5 separate regions of the Homo sapiens genome follow, and all the other regions are reported to be linked to region 2. The links are microRNA targets in miRTarBase. Many come from high-throughput screens and were not tested one by one. Region 2 holds a microRNA gene; each other region holds the end of a gene's coding sequence.

Region 1 (5,108 bases), not on the chromosome of region 2:
GTCTCCATTGTGTTAACATGTTCCTCAGTCCCCTTATTTCCTGCAAACTTGGAGTTAGATATAGAAGCTTCACCAGATTCAGGGTCACTTTTGTTAGCAAAAGTATCTCATAGACGGTGCTGTCTGCTTCCATAAGGAGCCATGCAGACCCGGCTGTCGCCTTGCTCGCCTTGTTCTTTTTTTTTTTTTTTTTTTTTTTTTTTTGAGATGAAGTCTCCTCTGTCGCCCAGGCTGGAGTGCAGTGGCCCAATCTCAGCTCACTGCAAGCTCCACCTCCCAGGTTTACACCATTCTCCTGCCTCAGCCTCCCGAGTAGCTGGGACTACAGGCGCCCGCCACCACGCCCGGCTAATTTTTTGTATTTTTAATAGAGACGGGGTTTCACCGTGTTAGCCAGGGTGGTCTCTATCTCCTGACGTCGTGATCTGCCCACCTCGGCCTCCCAAAGTGCTGGGACTACAGGCGTGAGCCACTGCGCCTGGCCTTTTCACCTTATTCTTTAATGTCTTTGCTTCCCCTGCCCTCCTCCAGGTGATGCAGTTTGGACGGATTGATGGCAGTGCGTACATTCTAGACTTCCAGTATCCGTTCTCAGCCGTGCAGGCCTTTGCAGTTGCCCTGGCCAACGTGACTCAGCGCCTCAAATGAAGAGACTGGTGTGGGGAGGAGAGAGATGCAGAGAGCCTTTGGAAGAGGTCTTCGGAGATGCCAGAGGAGCCCTCTAGGGGTCCGATGCCTGGGAGGACCAGAAGCCAACAGCAAAACTGGAAAAGCCCGGCAGGCCCAGGAGAGGGCGCTGACCTGTGGTCGTCATTTATTTGGTTGGGTTTTATTACCTTTTATTGTCTGTTCTTCTTTTCTTCTTTCATTTCAGTGGCATTTGGAAGCAAAGAGTGCTAGGCACCTGCTGTTCTTTCAGGAAACAGCTTGGCTGTGGTAATGCTCTACTGGGCCCTTCAGAATGAAGACAGTCTGCCTTAGAGCCTGCTATTCTTTTAGACATAGGGAGGATGCATTATCCTGTATTCTCCTCCAACATCACCACTAGCGTAAAAGCAAAAAGCTTTTACAAAACACAGCCAAAAATTCTCAAGATGCAGGTTCTTGGGGAATGGGATGGGGACAGCATTTGATTTACACTGATTATGTTACTCCCCAAAAGGTGACTTAATTAATAAAGGGCATTTGGGCAGACACACTGTGTTGGACCAACAAAGTAGGCTCTTTACAGGGGTGTTCTCACCAGGTAGAAATGCGATTTGCTCACTGAGGATGTTGGGGAAGGGACGAAGGGTAAAGAAGAAACTGCACGTATACACAGGTTCACATCACTCTGCAGACAGCAATGTGACTCAGCGTGTGACTTGTAGCAGCAGTACGAGGGCTACACTCCTCTGCTGAGGATGTCTACATTGAAAGCCTCCACTAGTTTCATCGTTTGTCAAAGTTCCGTAGGATCAGTGATGGTCATTCAGCATGACTGGTTCTGGGAGAAGGTGAGAGACAAAAATGGAAAGATCCTGGCCTGTGGTAGTGGTAGCAGTTTTCTCAAATAATGTGGTGACAGTCACTAGATCCTCACATGCTGAGAAACAGCCTCTACTCTCTCTGCCCCTTTTACTTTTTAATCTGGAATGCATTACTGTAAACATGATCTTTCCCATGAGATACCATGTTCTATGCCTTCCCATTCTAAAAGTGTGGACAACGCTTGATTTGAAACCACTCCTTTTCTCCTCTTGGCTACATTAAAATTCAGTTGACTACAAATGCTTTCTATCAAATTAGAAATGTAACCAAAAAAATGTTAAGTGTTCACCAGGGTATTAAAATACAGAGGAGTATGGTCAAATCTTTGACAAAATTTTCATGATCTTCTCTAACAAAAAAAGTTGTTTATTAACTGTACAGACTGTTTACTAAGGAGCTAAACCACTGAGAAAACGTTATTAAAATTGTAATACCTAGGTAGTTGGTTGATCACAGTTTGTTAATTGTATAAAAAAAAATTACCTAGAATATCTCTTCCCACTTCCTCGTCCTCGTGAGAACCTGTGGGCAGTATTCAAGCCCTGATGACAAAACCCAGTGTTTTTTGTTGTTGTTTTTTGTTGTTGTTTTTTGTTTTTGTTTTTGTTTTTCTCAGTCTTACCTGTGATGTTGTTTAGGATCAGGCCCCTCTCCTGGGCCTGCTGTGCAGGAGCACAGGAACTATCTGCTGGCGTTGGGTTCCAAATTTGCATTTTATTTGGAAACAGACAAGTAGAAGATGCTACAGAAAAGTATTTTCAAATTTAAACGTTTTTTAATCCCCTGTTTTAGTTAAAAAATTGGAAAAGAAACCGACCCATTTTTTTCCCAGATCAAGATGACATGACATCACTCCCAATTCTCTCCAAACCCCAGAGAAATACTGACGAAGTTTTCTGATGTGGCAAAGGATATTTCCCATCTAATACCAGTTTCTCATTTATATTTAACGTATTGGACCTGATATTTTTAGTGGGTGCATTCTTCCAGAAAGAATTCAGCAATGTTATCAGAATTAATTCTTTTATATGAGTTTATGTAGCTTGATATGGTGTTTCAGTGCTTATTGGTTGTGCAATAATGGTTATAGCCTGTTAGATAATCTAAATGCAATTCCCCTGTTTTGTCGTTTAGGAGATAATTATTTATCTTGCTTTTCATAGTGTTCTTAGGAATTATTTTGTTGTTACGTTTTGGTGAGTTATACCCATTTTATTTATTTAGAAAAATAGTATCTTTGTTAACGACTTACATGGTCACAGTATATTTTGCTGCAAGAAATAAAGAGGATATGATAGAAGGTTTTTTTTTTTTTTTTTTTTTTTTTTTGAGACGGAGTCCCACTCTTGTCGCCCAACTAGAGTGTAGTGGCACAATCTCGGCTCCCCACAACCTCTGACTCCAGGGTTCAGGTGATTATTTTGCCTCAGCCTCCCAAGCAGCTGGGATTATAGACACCCGCCAACACGCCAGGCTAATGTTTTTGTATTTTTAATAGAGATGGGGTTTTGCCATGTTGGCCAGGCTGGTCTTGAACTCCTGACCTCAGGTGATCCGCCCGCCTCGGCCTCCCAAAGTGCTGGGATTACAGACGTGAGCCACCACTCCCGGCCCATAGAAGGTTTTTTGCTGGATAATTTGTAACTTTTCTAATTGGGAAAAAATTCCTATTAATCACTTAAAAATTTTTTTTTGTATTTTGTGTTATTGATTATATACAAAGGAGACTTTTTTTTTGAGATAACACTCAAATAGTATTCTCTTCTTTTGAAAATTTTATTTTTATCTGAAAATAACAGTTGATCTGAAATAAAAAGGGGAGACCTATTAGAATGAGAGTAGCCAAGGAAAGAGTTACTAGGTAATAAGCTTCACTTTTTGTGTTCTAATTGTTTTTGAGATATAAAGACCCTGAAAAAGCCCATTTTAGAACCTGTTTAATAAGAGCAAATATAGGGGAAAATCTTTGAAATGAAAGCTACAAATACATGTGAGAAGAAAAAAATGGATTTTTTTAGCAAATAATTAACTAAGCTTCTAAATGCCTAGCTCCCTCCCCCAAAGGCGCTTTCCCCCGATGGAGGCACAGGCTTCTGTCTCGGATGTTTGGCGCACGTGAGTTTGTATGAGTTTGTACCGGAGTGACCCCGGCAGCCACTGCCCACCTCCCCTCTACCCAGGGGCCTGAAAAGAGGGGCTGCCCTCCTGCGCCAAGGCAGACACAAGCTGCGGGCTGTGCGGTCCTAGTAGTGTGACGTTTCAGTTAATAGTGGTGGTCTTATTTTCAACTATGCTTTCATTCAGTCAGTCTCTGTTGACTAAATACGACGAAAATTCATACTTTATGCAGGAGATTTCTAAAAATTTAATGTTTATTAATAGTTTATGAATATCAAGATACCTCATTGAATCCCTAAATTTAAAAGCAGTCCAGTAAAAGGTTAACTGTATAAAGAATCTATGACTTTTTGAGGGAAGTGTGATATATTAACAAATATAACCAATTCTAAATTTGTTTTAGCTCTAACCTCATCAAACCAAAGGCACAGATTTGTGTACAATATACCCATTGAATGTATATCCTGAGAAAAATTGGGGCCAAAGAAGCAGGAAAATCTCAAAGCTCTAATGGCAGCATAAATCAAAGAATTTCACAGGCTAGTGTTTTTATCCATAGCCATTGCTCCCTTGTCAAGTGTCTCACAAGGACATGGAAGAATGTGTTATGTTCATCTTGTAATCATAGCAAAAAGTCTGCAAACCCCAGGGTCAAGCCTGCTCTGCCACAGGGTTGGATGGTGACCTTGGGCAAGTCCCTGGGGCTGGCTAGGCCTCCACTTGTCCATCTGTGAAATGAAAGGATCAGCCTGGACAGCCCTCTAAACTCCCTTACAGCTCTCAGCCTAAGAGCGCAGCACTGAACAGCCTCATCATTCCACTTTTCATGGGAAATATATTTCACACCATTGCCTTTGTGTAGAGAAATATTTCTTTTCCTGTGTTAATGAGCTATGTACTGAATATAAACCAGTGCATTTAAAGTAATATCTTTTGTGCACCTCTAAATGTGTTTGGAATTGTGTTTGTTCTCATAGAATATACAAAAGTACTGATTCTAGGTAAGAAGGAGTCTCCACGGGTGTGCCCTGCTCAGCTGGATGTCCATGAGAACAGCCATGAAATAAGTCACTACTTGTCCCCAAAACCACAGGAATATATACCTAGGTCACCTCAAATTCCTGAGTGTGCTCTGCCATGTTACACGGTCTTCAAATTGAAAAGGTTTCTTGAAAAGGAAAGTTTGGCCCAGCAACTGGAGAAGGAGTCCATGGTGTCGCTGTGTGCCTGTATCATTTGGCCAAGTCAATGGTTGTAAGCAAAGTTAGTGGAGACAAAAATGTGTCCAAAATGTCGTTTGAGTTCCTGGGATTTCTGTAATAGCACACAACTCAGAACTCTTCAGCATTTGTGTGATTCCTTACCTCTGGCTGATAAAACTCTAATGGGTTGTGGCTTACTTTGTTTCCATTTTCTTTGGCTTTGTGCAATTTTTGTGTAACTTTACTTGTACCTATATT
Region 2 (5,108 bases):
AGCAGAAAGAAGTGATCTTTATACATGCTTGGTACAGGACATGGGGTGTAGTTGAGGTTATCTCCTGAAAATGACTTTCTTTGCAAGATGTTCAACTTTTGAATTCATCAAAAGGCAAAGCAAATTCCATTTTGAATTGGTCATTGAGGAATAGCCAAACCTATTCTGTGATGACATCTTAGGAATCAGCTTGATTGTTGACCAGCTGAATGTTGGGTCTCAGTCATCATTTTGTATCACTTCTGAGGTCTGCAAAAATCTATTGAAAGAGAGTTGCGAGTAGCAGCCAATTTCAATAAGCAGAATCACAAATGGTCCTGTCATTGGTCTCATCTTTTCAGACATTGTTAAGTCTGGACCCCAGATGGGTTTCCTCTACACTGGGAGTTAGTGTTTGTGGCCCATTTGGAACTGGGATGAAGAATGGGCTTAGACTAGGCTAGGGGCTGATTCTAAGTGCTCAAATATGTCCCCATTAGATATCATACCTGCTAGGCATGATCATTTTTCCCGTTTTTCTTTCCTTTTACTTAGATTTTATACTTTTTTCTTATTTCCATGCTTAAGGACTCACGTATTCAAACCCAAACATATGCCTTCCTAGGCATGTATATCCATCATCGAAATACAGTACTCATAAAAGAAACCTTTATTAACTTATGTCTAAGTAATGGATTCTGTGTTCCCAGACCACTCGACCCGGAGTTAAATATGAGTTAAGATTAATTTGCTTAAAACACTATTTCTTTTACACGTAGTTCAAGATAGCTTTTGGGAAGTAAATCTGATTTATAGCTAAAACGCTATCTCAAAAACATTCTTTAGAGCAGGATTTTTCTTTCTCAAAGGCTGGAATGATTATTTTGGACGTATTCCTCTCTGAATCTGTTAAAATATAAAGTGTATAAATGCCAGTATGAATTTGCCAAATATTGTGATGGAACATTTAATGCTGGCAAAGTTTCCACACAACTTGAAAAAAATAAGTGGGGATTTTTATTATTTGTATGGCGTCTTTTTATAGCAGATTAGTATGTGTTAGTGGCAAATGGTTACAACTAAGTAACAACTTAAAATTCGTGAAGATAGATGTTAGATCCTAGAGAAGAATCTAGACCTACCACACATGGTCAAGAGTTATTTTTAGACCTGAATGAGTCAACACAGCTTTTGCCAGAAGTGATGTTCTTGATTGACTTGTAATTGGTTAATGGAAGAGAAGGCAAGTTGGGCTTGCCCCTACATGATAGCCTTTGCTCAGACAAAAGAGGCAGCTTTCTGTGACAACTGATTTCAGAGGTGGCAGACGACTCATTTGCTAGTAACTCCCTTACCGTCTTACCACGGGGCGAAATCCTATTTCTAAATATTATTAAGAAATACAAAATAGCTCTTGTAACGGGTGACACATTAACCCAGCTTTTCTCAAAATATATTCCATAGAACATATATTCAGCATGGTTTGATAGGCATTATGTAAACAAAGATAAACAGGTTTGTATATTGAAAGACCTAACAGAGCTCTTAATAGGCTAATGTATGTTTCAAATCTCCAAGTTAGATTCGTACTGTATAAGATTTCCCAGGCTTTTACCATGGGATTTCCTCCTCTCCCGCTGGCTGGTGGCTCACACCTGGTTGAGGCAGGAGGAGTGCTTAAGGCTAGGAGTTTGAGATCTGCCTAGGCAACATCATGAGATCCTGTCTCTACAAAAAAATAAAATTAGCTGGGCATGGTAGCATTTGCCTGTAGTCCCAGCTACTTGGGGGGCTTAGGAGGGCGCTTGAGCCCAGGAATTTGAGGCTACAGTGAGCCATGATTGTACCACTGCACTCCAGCCTGGGCGACAGAGCGAGACCCTATCTCAGAAACAAAATAACAACAACAACAATAAAAAAGGGAGCTTATCTTGGAAGTAGTGTTACACTTCCATTAGCCCATTATCATTCTTTATCATAGTATTAAAGATTCATTTGTCACATGAGACTGGATGTAGAACAAAGAAAAAAATGATTCAGTTGGCAATTCTCCAGCAGAGGGCCTCATACAGGGAGCTCTTCAGGGGTAGGGAACATATGTTTTCCATTTTTTCCCTCCATAAACAGCTAGTGTAGTGGTTTATGTAGAGTAGGCTTTTAAGTTTTGCTTAGAATCAGAGCATGATTCTGAGGCAATGAGGCAGAGGAGAAATAATTTTGTTTGTTTGCTTTTTTCTCTCTCTTACAGAGCTGAAAAGGACACATAATTTTGATGAAAATGATTAAAGTTAGACAAATGCACCACAATTCTTCTTTTATTGTTAAATAGCTTCATGCTTTTTACTTTTGTTCACCTCTTTTCCTTGTGTATGACAAGGGAATACGTTAAGAACACAGAACTCACAGGATCGCTGTGAGGCCAAAGTAGTGTAGTATATAGAAACACATTTAATGAAGTTGCTTACATCTGGTTATTAAAAAGAAATGCTAATTTGTAAATATTCTTTTTTTACTTTCAGTTGGTCTGGAAACTGTGCTCCATGGCCTTTACACTCATTTAGAGTAGGCACTCTTGGCTGCATCGTCACGTGAGATCTGCCTCCACCAATCCTGCCAAATGCTTTCCTCTTAGGATGCTGTTGCACAGGCTTAGTTGATAGCCCTGAAGGACTTTTTCCCTCTTCTTACTGTTTTATTTTTGTTCACAAATGTTTGCTTTTTTTTTTTTTTTTTTGAGATGGGGTCTTGCTGTGTCACCCAGGCTGGAGTGAAGTGGCACGATCATGGCTCATTGCAGCCTTGAACTCTAGGGCTCAAGGTGTCTCCCTCCTCAGCCTCTTGAATAGCTGGACTACAGATGTGAGCCACCACACCCTGCCTGTTTGCCTTTTATCAATTTTAAAATGTGGGACATTCTTGCTTTTCTTCAGTTTGACATGATGATGAACAATAATCATCAAGCAAGCTTGAATCAAGCAAGCGTCACTCAATAGGACACTCAATAGGAACAAAGTGTGCATCAGTATTTGAGAATGTCTTTATGGTTGTTTCTTTAGGTAGCCAAATAAATCTACGGCAATATCAACATTTTCATTGGCAATCTGACTTATTTTCCTAAAGAATTTATGATGAAACTGCTCCAGTCCTGACTAACTTAGTCTTTTACAGTCTCAGCAGAAGCAAAAGCTCTTTGAAACCTCCTTTCTCCCCGCTCCCTAACTTTCTTACCCCTGCTGGGGCTCTTTCTTTATGCTTCCATATTTCTTTGGAGAGCTGTAAAGAATTACAGTGTGGACTTTGATGTCAGGGGACTTGAGCTCAAATCCTGAGGCTTCTTATTTTTAGCTGAGTGTCCCTGGGCAAGTCAATTAACTTCTCTCTATCTCCCAAATTCATCACCTATGAAATGACAATAATGTGATGATTAAATGAGGTGGTAAATATAAAGTTCTTAATTCAATATGTGGCAACAATTATTATTACCTCATTATGGTATTTCCCACTGTTGGTCTACAGATAAATCTATAGACAAAATACAATCCCGGACAACAAGAAGCTCCTATAGCTCCTGTAGCTTCTTGTGCTCTAGGATTGTATTTTGTTTATATATATTTTTTAATCCTGAATGTCTAGTATTATGCTTGGGACATAGTGGCCACTCAGTGAATATGTTTGAATAAATGAAATTTCTCAAATAGGCAAAAATGCATATCATAAAACAAAGCCATGTTGGTCGATGTTGACATCATGCATATTAGCATGCCAGTAGTGTGATAACAAGAAAGGATAGAGATGGTACTTTTCTTTTGCATATGCTTATTTTTTGTGTGCACTGAATCCAGTTTTGCATAATGGAGAAATATACCAATGTGAATTACATGTCTTTTCAAGTTTCAGTGCTGAACTTGCTGTGTTTGTTGTCTCATATAACTGGACTAGTAAGGGGCTGTCTTCCTTTTGGAAGAGAAGAGTCTTCAGACATCTTAGAAAGTTAAGCTGCTTTTTAAGTGTTAAATAAACATTTTAAAGATAATTGGTAAGCATTTATTTAGTAAAATTTTGACCTTTAAAAACTCTGCATGAGACCTGAGTGTTGAAAACTAAGAACTGTGTGCTTGTTTTTAACACAGAAGATATGTATCTCCAGGTTTTCATTTTCCTTTTTCTCATGAAATGGTATTCAAATCGTGCACTTTGAAATGCCACAGAGGAGGAGGTTTATCCGAGCTACGTGATGGGTCAAATGAACTTAAATTTGAAACATGTTTAAATTTGCCCTTTTGTTTCCTTCTCATTAATTACTGGAATTGCCGTGAGTCCGTTGCTCTGTGAACGTTTCTCTTTCTTTGAACATTCAGGATATGGTGTTTTGTAAGTGATCTAACAGCCAGCTTTTTCTAATAAAACATGGCCTAAGAGAAGAGCCTGTTTGTGTTACTAGTGTCTTTTATGATTTTCAAATGATTTACCCACTTCTTTAACTGTCCCTAGATGAGTAATCTTTGAAGGGTAGGGTGGCACATGTGGAGTATTAAAGAGATGGCTGTTAAGCAAAGATAAATGAATTACTTATGATAATACACCGTGGAACAACTTTCCACTACTGGTAAATATTTTGTTTTCTACAGAAATCTCTTTACTATCAAATCATTGCTAAACATCATAGTTCTATAATAATCCCCTCATTTGAAGACATTTCATTTCAAACAAAGGCTCATTATTTTAAAATGGATGCAAATTGTTTATTTTCTAAATAAGCCTAAATATAACTTAAATTCAGGTTGCTAAAAAACCTCTTCCTGGCCGGGCGTGGTGTCTCACACCTGTAATCCTAGCACTTTGGGAGGCCAAGGCGGGTGGATCACGAGGTCGGGAGTTCAAGACCAGCCTGACCAACATGGTGAAACCCCGTCTCTACTAAAAATACAAAAATTAGCCAGCCGTGGTGGCACATGCCTGTAATCCCAGCTACTCAGGAGGCTGAGGCAGGAGAATCGCTTGAACCTGGGAGGCGGAGGTTGTGGTGAGCGAGATCGCACCACTGCACTCCAGCCTGGGCGCAGAGTGAGACTCTGTTAAAACAAAAAGACCTCCATGTTGGTCAGGCTTGTCTTGAACTTCTGACCTCA
Region 3 (5,108 bases), not on the chromosome of region 2:
CCCAGGTTCAAGCAATTCTCCTGCCTCAGTCTCCCAGGTAGCGGGGATTACAGGCGCCCACAACTGCGCCCAGCTAATTTTTGTATTTTTAGTAGAGATGGGGTTTCACCATGTTGGCCAGGCTGGTCTCAAACTCCTGACCTCATGATCCACACGTCCCAGCCTCCCAAAGTGCTGGGATTACAGGCTTGAGGCACCGGGCCCGGTCTGGAGCTGTTCTTTTAACCACTTGATGTTAAAATATTCATTTGAGGATCAGAGGTCTGTGTGCCACACCTACTTGGGGACTATATCCTGGGTGGGGATAGCAGGTCTGGGAAGACTCAGACAGAATGGCTTCATGGTGCACCTGGGGAGGCTGCACCCAGACATCGGCCCTGGAGCTCCTGGGAGTGTATAGGAAGCACGACCGGGGATAGGAGTAGGTAATTTTTGAGGCTGAAATACACAGAAGTTCATGAGTTTGTTTTGTTTACTTTAGCTTCTGTTTTAAATGGTCTGTGATCAAAAGATTTTTACAAATCGACTCGAGTATGCATAGCTTTCCTAATATGACTGTATTAACGTCCTCTTCTTGTAGTGCTGTGCTGTGGCTTTCATTGAGAAGCTAGACGCCCAGTCTTTGAATCTAAGTCAGGAGGATTTTGATCGCTACATGTCTGGCCAGACCTCTCCCAGGAAGCAAGAAGCTGAGAGTTGGTCTCCTGATGCTTGCTTAGGCGTCAAGCAAATGTATAAGAACTTGGATCTCTTGTCTCAGTTGAATGAACGACAAGAAAGGATCATGAATGAAGCCAAGAAACTGGAAAAAGACCTCATAGATTGGACAGATGGAATTGCAAGAGAAGTTCAAGACATCGTTGAGAAATACCCACTGGAAATTAAGCCTCCGAATCAACCGTTAGCAGCTATTGACTCTGAAAACGTTGAAAATGATAAACTTCCTCCACCACTGCAACCTCAAGTTTATGCAGGATGATCACAATTTAGTGGAGAGTATTTATTTGAGCCTAAATTGTAGGTAGCCCTTACTACACTCAACTGATTGGGATCTAGAATGTAACTAAATTGCTTATAAATGTCAGCATTTTTTAAAGGTACAGTATATGGGGATTGTTTCGTTTTTCCTAGCAGGGGAACCTTAGTTAATAATAAAATACTACTTATTTGAGTTACTGATACAGATTCATTTAAGGCTTGTGTGCAAATTTTGTCTCAATCTTTTTTCCCTCCATGATTTTCCTATGTGCTTCCTCTGGCATTCACTGTGGTTTTGGTAAATAATTGCCTTTTAAAGGATTAAACAAATGAATGCTACAAAGTGTATGTTCAAGAAAATTAAATGGTACCACTCTTCCACAGTTTGGAATAATTTTATAATTGTAAAGATAGAAATTATATTGATAAGTAAATATGTAAAATTGTAAATATGTAAAAAAAAGAATGGTGTCTGCTGTGCATGGCATTTTATATGTTAATTTTTTAGTTTAAAATGAAGTATATTGAATGTTTGCCTTTAGCACCATTTTATTTGGTTTGTCCCACTAAAATGACTCGAGAAGTGTTTAGACAAACTCCCCTTAAGATGTGCACTCCATCTTTAAGAACGTGTTAGCCTTAACTTTGAGGTTCTATATAGTCAGAGACTATGACACCACTAAGGTTCAGAATAAAGTTTAGGCCACATAAAATTGCTGTTTAATGTAGTCGATGGAAGACTTTAAACTATGCTTCTAGCTTATTTTTCCCTCATTCATTCAGCAAATCTCTATTGAGTTCTTCAGTGAGAAGGAGCAGGCACTGGGCCTGGAATGGAAGGCGGGAATGAATGGGCCTCTGATGGTGAGAGGTGACGGGGTCCCTCAGCTGTGAGATGCAAGGGGCGCCTTGCAGCCTCCATAATATACATTTGACTTTGCAAACGTCTAGACATGTTTTCTGAACCTTTTTCAGGACATTTCAACCTCGGGACTATTCATATTAGTGGCCTGAGAGGTGTTTGTTGTGGGGCCACCCTGTGCATGGTAGAATGTTCAGCAGCATTCCTGCCATCCATATCCATTAGGTGCCAGTAGCACCCCCGCTAGAGCTGTGAAAAATTCTCTCCAGACATAGTCAGATGTCTCCTGGGGCCATATCACCCCTCCGTTAAGAACCACTGATGTCTTTTACAAACCAGGAGTTATCCTCCTGGTGGTTAATATGGTGTAACCAAAGAATCTTGCACTCAATGCACAGTGTGATGTTAACTAAAACGAGTTAAATATTTAGGAGGCTTGACAGCTACCTGCATTGTAGAACCTTTTCTTATCTCAGTGGAACCTTCTATAACCTAAATATACCATTGATGATTCTTCTTCCATTCAGTGACATCCACAGATTATGCAGCTATACTTGTGAAATCGTGCATGAGGCCCCAGGGCACCGTTCTAGAACAACGTCACTTCACACAGGCAGCTGAGAAAGGTTCTCTTGCTTTTCCAGTATCTTCCTAAGGATGGAGCCCAAAATTGCAGAGCAGTAACTTTGGAATAAAACCAGGGTGGGTATAAAACTTCTTATTCTTAAATTTACATATAAGATCTATTAAGCTTGACACATCTGTGTCATCACGCACTGAAGACAGGAAGCAGTTCACTGAGTCAGCTGGTTCCCAAGCTCGCACAGAAGGTGATAAGTTACTATCAAATGCCAGTGAGAATCTTCTTATAGAATAACCTGGGCCCAAGTGATTTTAGTACAAAACTTGCCCTTCTTTGGTTTAATTTTCTATGTGCTTTTAGGTGTGAATCCAGATATGCGGTCTTAATTCCTTTGGAAATACACAGTTCGTTTAGTTACTGTACACTCTGTTTGTTCAATAAACTGCATATCAACTTCCCACAAAAGCTGACTTTTTTGGGTCTCTTACATATAAAGTAGGTTATTGAGTTGATTTTTTTGGAGGTATCTCATATTGGTCGAATTCTTCTGGTATGGACTCTTGCCTTATATAGAGGCTTCTATTTCTCTTAAGTCAGCATCAATACAACGGCCGGAGTTTCTGTTTTTGCAATAAGAAGATGTTGGTATTTTATGTAGGGTAAATGTGACTGGAATACACCTTTGGAACGGAATTCTTTATCAATAAAGTTTCACAATCCGTCCCTCTTCCAAAAATTGATTTGGTTCTTTCTTAGGAAAATATACATTATTATTAATATTCTCATGCTACAGAGGTTTTCTGGTTAAGCTATACCTAAAAATGAAACATTAGAGACATTTGTCAGTTAAAATTAAGAAGACAAGAATATTTGCTGTCACCACAATCAATCAACCTTGTTCTTGCAGTTCTACCAAGGTACTCAGTCTTCAAACAGACATAAAAGTAGAGAAAAAAGGAGTTAATGTAATCAATATAGAGCTATTATTGTCTGTTGGTGAGGACATGAACTCTGAAGCTGGAAGGCTTGGATTTGGTTTTGAATTTTATTCTGCTACTTATTAGCTCATTGGCCCTGAACAAATCTCTTGTTTCAGATCCCTCAGCTGTGAAATGGGGTTAATAATATTACTGCTTCATGGGGTTGTTGTCTGAACTTAGAACAAATGATAGCTATTATTTGTAGATGGTTATTTTATGTAGAAAACCCAAGAGAAGGCTGGGTGTTGTGGCTCACGCCTGTAATCGCTTTTGGAGGCAAGGCAGGAGGAATGCTTGAGGCCAGGAGTTTGAGAGCAATGTCAGCAACATAGTGAGACCCACATCTCTACAAAAAAAAAAAACACTAGCTGGGCATGGTGGTGTGTACCTGTAGTCCCAGCTACTGGGGAGGCTAAGGTGGGAAGATCACCTAAGCCCAGGAATTTGAGGTGGCAGTGAGCTGTGATCTCACCATTGCATGCTAGCCTGAGTGAGACCCTGTCTTGAAAAACAGAAATGTAAAAAAAGAAAACCCAAGAGAATTTATATTGAAACTATAGAATTTCATCTCTATATTAGTGAAAGATGAAAATTCTAAAATAGCGATAAAAGCTAACTGTACAAAATGATTTTCCTATATACCATTACTAACCACTTAGCAAACATTGTGGAGAAAAAAATCAATTTACAATAGAAACAAATATAAATCACCTACAGAGAACAAGAGCTTTCAGGATCGATACGAAAAACAGAAAATTGAGTGAGAAGCACAAAGGTGTGACTGCAAAGGGCCCTGTGCTTGGACTTTAGGGCTCTGTAGCTGCCATCGTGAAATTCTTCTTTTTTGTTTTTGTTTTTCTTTGGGCTGGGGGGTATAGGGTCTGGCTCCGTAACCCAGGCTGTGGAGTGCAGTGGTGTGAACATGACTTACTGCAGCCTGGACCTCCTGGGCTCAAGCTAGCCTCTCGTCTCAGCCACCTGAGTAGCTGGGACTACATGTGTGTGCCACTGTACCCAGCTAATATTTAAATTTTTTATGGAGACGAATCTCACTATGTTGTCCTGGCTGATCTTTTTTTTTTTTTTTTTTGAGATGGAGCCTTGCTCTGTCACTCAGGCTGGAGTGCAGTCGTGTGATCTTGGCTCACTGCAATCTCCACCTTCTGGGTTCAAGTGATTTTCCTGTCTCAGCCTCCCAAGTAGCTGGGACTACAGGTGCGTGCCACCATGCCCAGCTAATTTTTTGTATTTTTAGTAGAGATGGGGTTTCACTGTGTTAGCCAGGATGGTCTTGATCTCCTGACCTCGTGATCCACCTGCCTCGGCCTCCTGAAGCGCTGGGAATACAGGCGTGAGCCACCGCGCCCAGCTGTCCAGGCTTGTTTTAAACTCTTGGGCTCAAGCAATTCTCCCACCTTGGCTTCCTAATGTGCTGGGATTACCAGCATGAGCCTCCGTGCCCCACCCCACCGAAAAAAGAAATTTATACTTAAGTTTTTGCCCACAGGTTCCTCAGTGTGTTAAAAAGGTTGAATGGGGAACCTGAAACTCCTCCCCCTGCTTTTGGAAGTGTAGGGCACTTCCCTTTCTCCACAGTGTCAGTAGAGGATGGGTGGAGACTGAACTTCCAGCCCTGCCAGGTGAGAATGAAGTGTTTGTTCCTGTCCTCTCCACCCTCTTCTGTGGTGTTGGTGGGGGCTGAGGG
Region 4 (5,108 bases), not on the chromosome of region 2:
TAAAGCATTATTTGGCTGTGTTTATGAGGGTGTTTCCAGACTACTTTAGGGTGTGAGTCTGAGTGGACTAGGTGAGATACACCTTCAATGTGGGCCAGCATTCAGTTGACAGAAGGTCCAAAGAGAACAACACAGAAAAGGCAACATGTCTGTCTCCCTCCTAGAGCGGGGATAACTCTTCCTTCTCTGTCTTTGGATATAAGAACTCCTGATGTTCTGATGATGTTGTCCTCTGAGGACAGAGAAGGAAGAGTGATCCCAACTTTAGGAGACCTCTGGACTCCAGGACTTACACCAGTAGCCCCCTGGGTTCTCAGGCCTTCAGCCTCAGACTGAGAATTTTATCATGAGCATCCCAAGCTCTGAGGTCTTTGGACTTGGACTGAGCCACATCAAGGTCTCCAGCTTGCAGACAGCCTGTTTTGGGGCTTCCCAGCCTCCATAATCGCATGAACCAATTCTCCTAATAAATCCCCTTATATATCTATATACATATACTATTGGTCATCTCTGGAGAACCCCAACTAATAAATGGTCTAACCTGGCATATCAGCACACCAACACCCAATAATAAAATGCCAACAACAGAGATGCCCAAATCTACATATAATCCTGTGCCATTATCAAATTTACTGGAATTCAAAAATTAAACCTCCTTCCAAATCAAAGTCCAAAAATGTTAAACTCCACTAGAATTAAAATCCAAAACTAAATACCCTTATTTTTGTAAGTTAAGAATCAACCAGCCTAGGCAACATGGTGACACCCTGTCTCTACAAAATATTAAAAAATTAGGCCAGGCACGGTGGCTCACAACTGTAATCCCAGCACTTTGGGAGGCCAAGGCGAGTTGATCGCTTGAGCCCAGAGTTTGAGACCAGCCTGGGCAATATGACAAGACCCAGTCTCTATCAAAAACACAAAAAATTAACCAGGTGTGGTGGTGTGCACCTGTAGTGTGGGAGGATCACCTGAGCCCGAGAAGTCGAGGCTACAGTGAGCCATGACCACTGCACTCCAGTCTGGGTGACAGACCGAGACCCTATCTTTAAAAAAACAAAAAGAGAAAAGATAGCTGGGCATGGTGGCACCTGCCTGTGGATCCAGCTACTTGGGAGGCTAAGGGGGGAGAATCGCTTGATCCCAGTGGTTCGAAGCTGCAGTGAGCACTGATCACACCACTGCACTCTAGCCTGGGTGACAGAGCAAGACCTTGTCTCAAAACAAACAAAAAATGTCCAACATTCTTAAGTTAAATGCCCAAAACAACCTTTCCCAAATCCTTATTCTGTTCAGTCTTAACCAGAAGGGGGTTTGATGCTTAGGTGGTTAAAGTCCTTTCAGCAGCCACAACCCAAGCTGTTACTCATGGGAAAGTAATTTCTTTAGGGCCTCAGAAGTTACACTAGATATGCCTCAGATACATCACTTTTTAAAAATTGAGATGTAATTCATGTAACATGAAATCCACTCTTTTAAGGTTATAATTCAGTGCTTTTTAGTATATTCACAAGGTTGTGCAACCATCTAATCCCAGAACTTTTTCATCACCCCAAAAAACAAACCCATACCCATTAGCAGTCACTAGTATAGTTGTCTATTTCTGTGAATTTGCCTGTTCTGGATCATATAAATCAAATATGTGGTCTTTTGTGTCTGGCTTCTTTCACTTAGCATAATGTTACAGTTCATCCACACTGTAGCATACACAAGTACTTCATTCATTTTAACAGATAATATTCTATTGTATGAATATATCGCATTTCAGTTATCCATCCATCCATCGATGGACATTTGGGTTGCTTCCACTTTGAGACATTAGGAATAATGCTGCCGTGAATGTTCATACAAGTTTTTGTGCAGACATGTTTTTAGTTCTCTTGGGTATGAACTGAGGAGAGGAGTTGCAGGGTCGTATGGTAATTGTTTAACTTTTTGAGGAATCATCAAATTATTTTCCACAGTGCATGCATCATTTTACATTCGCACCAGCAAGGTACTAGGGCTCCAATTTCTTCATATCCCAGCCAATACTTGTTACATTAATTTTTGTACAATTCTTGTTACAATAATTTTTTATAATTATAGCCATTCTATAGCACCCATGAAATGGCGTTTCATTGTAGGTTTTGAGACGGGGTCTCACTGTCACCCAGGCTGGAGTACAGTGGTGCAATCATAGCTTACTGAAATCTCAAACTCCTGGGCTCAAGCAATTCTCCTGCCTCAGCCTCCCAACTACGTAGGACTACAGGTGCATGCACACTACCACACCTCACTAATTTTTTAAAATTTTTGGTAGAGATGGGGTCTCACTATATTACCCAGGCTGGTCTCCAACTCCTGGCCTCAATCTATCCTTCCACCTCGACCACCTACAATGTAGCACTGGGATTACAGACATGAGCCACTGCACCTGGCCTAACTCCTATGATGAAAAAAGGAAGAGCTTGGGTATGACTATTAGCTCCCCTGGGATAGCAAATAATAAAGGGGTGGAAAGAAGCAGGTGTTACATCACTTACTCCCCTCCAAAGGGAAAGAAACAACAGTGGAGGGAAAGCATTGCCCCCAAGAGTTAGAAGCAAAGTGTGAGGCAACCAGCTCATACTGGCTCCTGAGAATCAACTGTCAAATCCTTGAGAATTTTGCAAACCAGTTGTTAAAGCCTTGGTAGCTTGAAATTAGCCAAGGCAGTAGTACTGACAACATGTAAATCAGAGAAAACTACAAATCAGTGCTTTGTGTTTTGGAAAATAAGGTTGGATCCTTTTTCCATGTGGTAATACCAAAATTCCAGATAGATTCCAGATTTAAATCAAACGCAGAAAACATAAAGTGCCCAAAGAAAAGTATAATCAAAGCAAAGGTTTTCCAATCCACGTGGACCAAATACAAAAACCATAATGGACTAGGTCAACATGCAACTACATTAAAATACATCATTTATGTCAAAAATAGCACTAAGTGGCAAACTACAAACTAGGGAAATTATTAGCAAAATACATGACTAACAGAAACCCATCAAGAATTCTTACAAATTAGTAAGAAAAAGACAAACATCTCAATGGCAAAAGCCTCAACAGATAAGTCATTTACAAAATACAAATGAGATCAAAATTAATCAAGAAAATTTTAGGCCAGGCCTGGTGGCTCATGCCTTTAATACCGGCACTTTGGGAGGCTGAGGCAGGTGGATCACTAGAGGTCAGGAGTTCAAGACCAGCCTGGCCAACAAGGTAAAACCCCATCTCTCTAAAAATATAAAAATTAGATGGGAGTGGTGGCGCCCACCTGTAATCCCAGCTACTCAGGAGGGTGAGGCAGGACAATCACTTGAACCTGGGAGGCGGAGGTCGCGTTGATATCGCGACAAGGCACACCAGCCTGACTGGAGGTTGCAGGGAGCCAAGATCATGCCACTGCATTCCAGTGAGACTCTCCAAAAAAAAAAAAAAAAAAAAAAAAAGGAAAAGAAAACTTTAGACATGCCCGGTTTTCTTGTAAAAATGGCAAAGAGGAGAGAAGGTAGAACACAGCTAATGCTGGGAAGGATATAAATGGTACTATGAAAGACTCCTGGCAAAAATATACATTGGCACAAACTTTTTCTTGGCAACACAATATATACCCTTTGATCTTACACATTTTTGAGTTTATTCTAGAAAAATACAAATGTATAAAGATCTAGTTAGACTACTGTGGCCAGTAAGAATAGGCTAAATAATTTATAGTAAATCCATTTAATACTATGTACATATTAATGTTGAAATATTTGACACAGAAAGATATTCACCATTTAAATTCAAAAAATGACTTAAGTGGAGGGTAAAAACAGTATAATCAGGATGAGCAAGTAAAATAAAACGTGTACTGAGAGTGGACTGAGAAAGTCTACGAAGACATACAGCAAAGCATGATCAACCTTCTCCTTTTTGCTTACCTACAATTCTACGATGTGCATATATTACCTGTTTGTTTTTAATAGGAGTTCTTTGACTTAATTTATACAGTTCAATGATCTTATTATCAGTTCCTTGATTTGACCTGAGTCCTGGAGTTCTTAGCTGCTTTTAGTATCCTTTATCTTAAAGCTCTGTCTCCACTCATTTCCTGGCAATTCAGTAATAACTACATTAAGGTAATAACCTTCTGAATCAATTTTATAAGCAAATAGATAAAATTTCTATCTTTAGGGTAATTCCAATAGATAATTCCTGCATTTCTACAATGTGCATATATTACCTGTACATTGTTTGTTTTCAATAGGAGTTCATGGAATTTGAAATCAGAAGAAAAATCCTCATTACAAAACAACAGCATTTTAATTGAATTTTCTAAGTGATCATTTCCGGTTGTTTAAATGCACCTGTTCAAATCAAAGTTCATCATTTTGTTTGGAACAACTTTTGTTTGAGAATCAAATGGTCACGTAAATGACAAAACAAATAAGCATATAATGACAGAAAAGTAAGTGGCAAAATAACTACAAACTTTGTTCCACTGGCTACTGCAGTAGAATAAACAAAATGACAGTTAACCAAAAACACCTTTATTTTCATCTGCAAAGAAGAAGCTCTTTTCTTCTTTTTCCAGGATAATCATGATTAACTTACAAAAATGGGTACACATCTTCAAAGCACTTCCCTTTAACGGGAAACTTAGCTTTATGGGATTTAAACATTAGAAAGTGGGAAAAAAAATTCCATTTTCTTGTCATTATAAGCCAAAACAAAATCTAGTGTAAGTCAAGGAAACTCATTCACACTTCAGGTCCTTCTCCTCCAGGAACCAGCTGCATAAAGAGGAAAAAGAGTTTATTAATAACACTACCACCATGTCATCTAAAAACCCCTTGCTCTTCATTAAGCCACCTTTGCCTGTCCCCTGCACTCCACGTTCCCATTTTCTCCAGATTGTCAGTATCTATTTACAATTCCCAACGTCATCAATTAATACTTACTATCTCAACAGCGATTAAAAGTTCCAAGCAAACTAACCTTTAGACCCAATGCCTCTTCAATAGCTGAGCTTTAGGACCCTGACCACAGAGAACCCCTTTCCCATCTTATGCACCACTGGGCCATGATCATTTAGTCAAGCAAGCA
Region 5 (5,100 bases), not on the chromosome of region 2:
AAACATCTTTTGGTTGAACAAGCTCAAATATTTGAGTCAACAAAAAAATTCAAAAAGTTTCTTTAGAGCTGAAGCCCTTCTTTAACTACAATCCAGCCATCAATCTTTTAAGTATGGTTGTTATCATCAATGAAAACAACCAATGTTTAGTAATCCCAAAGTAAAAATAACTGCATTTAAACTCTGAAATGTTGTTTTTGTTAGGTCATTAGTTAGCTGAAAATTACTTACTACTAATTATTAACCCATAGAATTTAAAATTGGCCACTCAAAGATAATTTGATGCCCAAAGTTAAGACTGAGAAGCAATTGCTGCCACTAACCCTAACCACATGTATCCCAGAGGTGGCAATATGAAGACCTGCCAAATAAAGTTTCTACAGAATAGTAGCCACTACTTCTCTCTCCATTAAAAATGTGCAGCAGTAAAAATCAAAATTGATATTTGAAGAATCTATAGATACTGATAGCAAGGTCAGAATATATTTAAATGCATTCACAGATGAAAATCCATATTTATTAAGAGACAATTGGACATATTTAAACTCTAAATATTACTAAGAAGGAAATCTACTTAATTGTCCTTCACTCTTGCTTAAAGTCATTTGAAACATACCATGAGTAAAGTAAGAAAGACAAATCATTGTTTCATTGAATATATATATATAAAAGAGTGCCACAAAAGTGCAATACATGTCCTTTGGTTTTATACATACCAATTTAAATAATTTTCCATAACTTTGCATATAGTAACAATGACTTTAATTATGAACCAGTTGTAAGATAACCTTTTTTTTTCTTTTCTAGCCATGAATGGATCCACTTTAAAGTATTACAACTCAAAGCCGTTTTTTTTTTGTGTGTGTGTCTCTGCATTAGTACTTTGTTATTTTTCCATCACTAAAGGCCAATCAGAATTTGGAACCATGCTGCTACCCAAGAAATCTAATGGAATGAATTAGTTCTGTAGATGACAATTTCTTCACCCATTTATGAGACCTAAATCTTTTCCATAACACTCATGTATTCAGTATAACAACATACTAACTGAAAGAGGGACCTGATTGTTTAAAGTTTGATTGCAGACACTGTAGAACATAACTCATTATGTTTCAGATAAGGTAACTCCTAGATATCAAACTAATTTGTTGGGGTAGAGATTTTACAAGTCATGCCATTAGAAGATTTTCTCTGATATTATATGTGCAGTTCAGTTACAAGATGAAATCATGTTTTTTTAACAAAAGAGATAAAATACAATTGAAGCAAAAAATAACAGCTAGTATATAATATATACAGTCTGTATTTGCTTTTCACAGTAGGCCTGATGACTAAAAGATATGCTTTATTACACGCTATTTTCACCTCTTGAAAGTCAAAGGTGATGATTAATTTCATTTAGCAGGGAAGTGGAATAATATCTTTTGAAATAACTAAGTCCACTAAATTATACAGTATGCTATTCTGGTTCTAAGTACATATTAGTCCCTTGGCAAATCTGTTCTTTCAAAGCATACCTTCCCCAAATGAGCCTACCTACTTCTTAAAAAACATATAACACAATGTGGTAGTAGTAGGTGTAAGGAAGGTAAGTTTTTTCATAGTGGTATGCAAACATATCATTGAAATATTACATAGATATAAAGACTTAGGGAATAAAAATAGCAGCAACAAATACTTGATAGATTTATCCTACTTGGGAGAAATATTTTGTAGCAGAGTATTTAGTATACTTAGAAGTTGATTTAGCAATTAGGCTTTAATGACCTTACAAAGTGAACATAACTGAACACAAGTATTTTTTCAATGCAAGATGAGGATGAAAATTTTACATTTCAACCCATCTGGCTAAAGTTAAGACTTAGCAAAAATTAAAATGTTGCCTTTGTCCAAGTATAGATTAAGGCAACAAACATATTTGGGTGTGTAATTTGAAGTTTTGGACTGAAATATCTTTGCAAGTATCCACATAAAATTCTGTAATGCCTTATAATTATATTCTAATAATTATGCATTATACTAAGACACCATTAAGAACAGTTGAGGCACTACACTAAATCAAACCATAAATGAGGAAAAAACTTTTAATGTTCTTTTCTAGAAGTGTTCAAATAGGTCTTGATATGAAGCTAAAAGCCTTATTTATATTATCTTAATATTTCGGCTAAAATGTTAAGCTCCATAACATGAATTGATACAATTCCAATTTTATCAATATTTTGTGATAGAAAAATGTTAATATTATTCATGAGCTATACAGTCCTTACATTTTTTCCCTTGGTGTAGGAACAACGGAGGAGTTTCTCCTCTGCTAACTATTCATATATGTAACTGTAACAAAAGTGTACTATGTTATGCACACATTACAAATAATATAAGGGGAAGTTTTATTAGCTTAGTAGGAAATTGTTATTATTAAGGTTTAAAAATGAGAACAGGTGTGAGTTTTCCAAAATACTTAAAAATAATAGTGTCAAAAATTCAGGGGCAGTTAAGGAGTCATGGATGGAACTAGAGGTCACTATATTAAGTGACATAAGCCAGAAACAGACAAACATTGCATGTTCTCAATTATTTGCGGGATCTAAAAGTCAAAACAATTGAACTCATGGATATAGAGAGTAGAAGGATGGTTACTAGTGGCTGGGAAAAGGGGTGTGCGAGGGGAACTGGGGATGCTTAATGTGTACAAAAACTATGTAGTTAGAAAGTATAAATAAGACCTAGTATTTGATAGCACAACCGGGTGAGTATAGTCAATAATAGCTTAATTGTACAAATAACTAAGAGTATAATTGGATTGTTTGTAACACAAATAAATACTTGAGTGGATGGATACCCAATTCTCCATGATGTGATTATTTCACATTGCATGCCTGTATCAAAATATCTCATGTATCTCATAAATATATACACCTATTATATATCCACAAAGATTTTAAAAAGTAAGAAGCCAGCACTTTATTGGCTCACTTGATCCATGGATAGTGAATTGGGGTCATAACAACGTCCTTATCATACTTAACAATTTTTTAAATTGTAATACAAAATGTGATGATATAAAGAGCTGTTCTATATATTTAAATGACTATTTAAATATATGTATTTCTTTTCCAATTTGTGATTAAGATCAATAGAGGTAGTAGTGATATATTTCCCTCTCATAAGTTTCACACTGCTTATCTCTGAAAACTTCAAAGTTGTCAGGTGAGGAGTGCCTATTTATCTAATTTCTATTCCAGTATGTTTTCACTTTAGATTTGTCACATAAAATGGAGACTGCGCAATGACATGCAAAGTAATCTGTTTATGTGTCTAAATAAAATATGTGAAGTATTTACATGGTTTGTGTGAAAGTCCAAGTAGGAAATATGCAGAAGGATTTTTAGCTTAGCTGTATATTTTTGTCAGGAAATTATCATCATGTGAATGTTTATGTTGGAGCTAACAAGCATCACTCTCATTAAAAACAAAACAAAAGCAGAAAACTTCCTTATGTGGACTACTTTAACATAGTTCAACCTCCAGTTGAAGCAAGTTTCTTCTTTAAATTAGAATTTCTTTGCTTTCAAACTTAGATTTCTAAGTTCCATAACTCACTTGTTCCATAAAGCATTCTTCCCATCCTTGTAATGGTGCTTTTGTTGCCTTACTCCTTCTTAACATAGACAGTACAAAAGGAACAAAATAAAGCTTTAAAAAACTTTCCATCTCACTACCCAATTTAGATCACCTTAACAAAAAGCCATCATCACACATTTCCCATTATTGCAATCTACAAAGATGACATGTTTCTTTTGAAAATAATTATTTTGAAAGTAAATAATATGTTGTGAAAAGGTTTCCTTATGAGGTACATCTTCCCCACCACATGCCAAAACTAAATTGACTGGATTTCCATAGTACTTTTTGTCCAGTTAAAAAAATACAAAGTATTTCATGCACAACTTAGGATATATGAAATAGTACATAGAAAACATTTAAATAAAGGAAGTAATAAACAAGCGCATCTTTCTTAATAAAACATTTAACAATATTTAGTCCTGAAGAAGACATACCTCAGAATTGTTTTATGAGAAAATTAGATAGCTAGGCAGTCTTGGTAATCTTAGATTGGCCTGACACAGACAATGAGATGTTGTTAAGTTCATAGCCTTTATGTTTGGTTTCCCATCCTACCACATTAAAAAAATTCTTTTTCAAATTGAAGTATATGTTCCAGAGATCCTTTATGTTAAGGAACAGTGCTTCCAATGTAATGCTTTGATTCTGTAGTTTGTTTGCTAACAGTGTTGAATACTTATAAATCATATGTACCAAGATCCAATAAGACAGATGAATTTCTTTAAATGGGAGAAAATATAGGCTTTTTGTTCTAGTTCCCTAAAAGGGTCTGATGAGCCAGCCTTGTCATGATGGGTGAATGGTGCTGGAATCTAGGATAAGAGGGTTTTGGAATCAGATGGGAGTGACTAGGACTTACATTATAGGTTAAATGAGATAGTGTCAATATTGTCAATTGGTCCAGATTTTAAAATGGAGGAGAGTTCCCTTTGGGGTAGTTACTTGGGTAATGCTCAAAGAGAAAGGCATAACTGAAACAGGCAAGCGACACATTTTTAGTTTAAGACATCTAGTGCTATACCCTTGAAGTTACAAATTGGCCAATTTCTTCTGCAGGACCTTTAGGAATCTAAAGACCCCTCATAACAATATCCAGTTCTTATCCAGGATCCAAGACTCTAAGAGATCTTTCTCAATCAGTTCCAAATTTACAAGTTATAATTCTTTTGGAAAGACAGGGTGGAGCTGAACAAAGTTGGGAGATTGGGAATGGTCTCAAACCAATTATATTCTAGGGTTCTAATCTAGCCCTGCAGCTTCTCTAAAGCCTTATTAGTTCAAAAAAATCGTACTGTATATAATTCCAAGCCTAGTCAGCTTTTTCTTGGTTCTCACAAGGGGAAGTTGAAAGAGTTAAATGAGATGATTATTTTGTTCCTCTGCCTTCATAGAGGACGAGTCATTTCCCCCTTGGAAGTAGGCATGTCAAGAATTGTGCTATATCCTTCAAAAATTGTTGCAAATATGTCTGGGATT

Evidence for each region. Region 2 holds the annotated microRNA hsa-miR-578 (CUUCUUGUGCUCUAGGAUUGU, at 3,554-3,574, shown strand). A microRNA usually pairs through its seed, bases 2 to 8, with sites in the 3' UTR of a target mRNA and lowers its output. Matches are read on the target gene's strand: a 7mer-m8 pairs with bases 2 to 8, a 7mer-A1 pairs with bases 2 to 7 and ends in A, and an 8mer does both.
Region 1: the mRNA of TULP4 is a reported target of hsa-miR-578. Seed matches in the 3' UTR shown: 7mer-A1 at 2,805-2,811.
Region 3: miRTarBase lists RABGEF1 as a target of hsa-miR-578. Seed matches in the 3' UTR shown: 7mer-A1 at 1,331-1,337.
Region 4: the mRNA of LSM5 is a reported target of hsa-miR-578. Seed matches in the 3' UTR shown: 8mer at 4,710-4,717, 7mer-A1 at 3,609-3,615 and 8mer at 3,498-3,505.
Region 5: miRTarBase lists POF1B as a target of hsa-miR-578. Seed matches in the 3' UTR shown: 7mer-A1 at 938-944.

Annotation. Positions count from the first base shown.
Region 1 is chr6:158,506,047-158,511,154 of GRCh38, forward strand. It overlaps TULP4 (TUB like protein 4), which reads left to right. Exons shown (of 14, transcript NM_020245.5): 14 at 532-5,108. The coding sequence ends at 648. Among named protein-coding and RNA genes, the nearest start is that of TMEM181, 51 kb to the right of the region's middle. RefSeq lists an enhancer at 439-939.
Region 2 is chr4:165,382,749-165,387,856 of GRCh38, forward strand. MIR578 (microRNA 578) reads left to right here and starts at 3,494; the gene lies at 3,494-3,589. All of the region lies in intron 1 of CPE (carboxypeptidase E), which reads left to right.
Region 3 is chr7:66,808,306-66,813,413 of GRCh38, forward strand. RABGEF1 (RAB guanine nucleotide exchange factor 1) reads left to right here. Exons shown (of 9, transcript NM_014504.3): 9 at 581-3,159. The coding sequence ends at 979. It also overlaps the pseudogene GTF2IRD1P1. Among named protein-coding and RNA genes, the nearest start is that of RABGEF1, 70 kb to the left of the region's middle.
Region 4 is chr7:32,482,499-32,487,606 of GRCh38, forward strand. LSM5 (LSM5 homolog, U6 small nuclear RNA and mRNA degradation associated) reads right to left here. Exons shown (of 5, transcript NM_012322.3): 5 at 2,840-4,795. The coding sequence ends at 4,763. Among named protein-coding and RNA genes, the nearest start is that of LSM5, 5.3 kb to the right of the region's middle.
Region 5 is chrX:85,275,134-85,280,233 of GRCh38, reverse strand. It overlaps POF1B (POF1B actin binding protein), which reads left to right. Exons shown (of 17, transcript NM_024921.4): 17 at 808-2,838. The coding sequence ends at 813. Among named protein-coding and RNA genes, the nearest start is that of ZNF711, 34 kb to the right of the region's middle.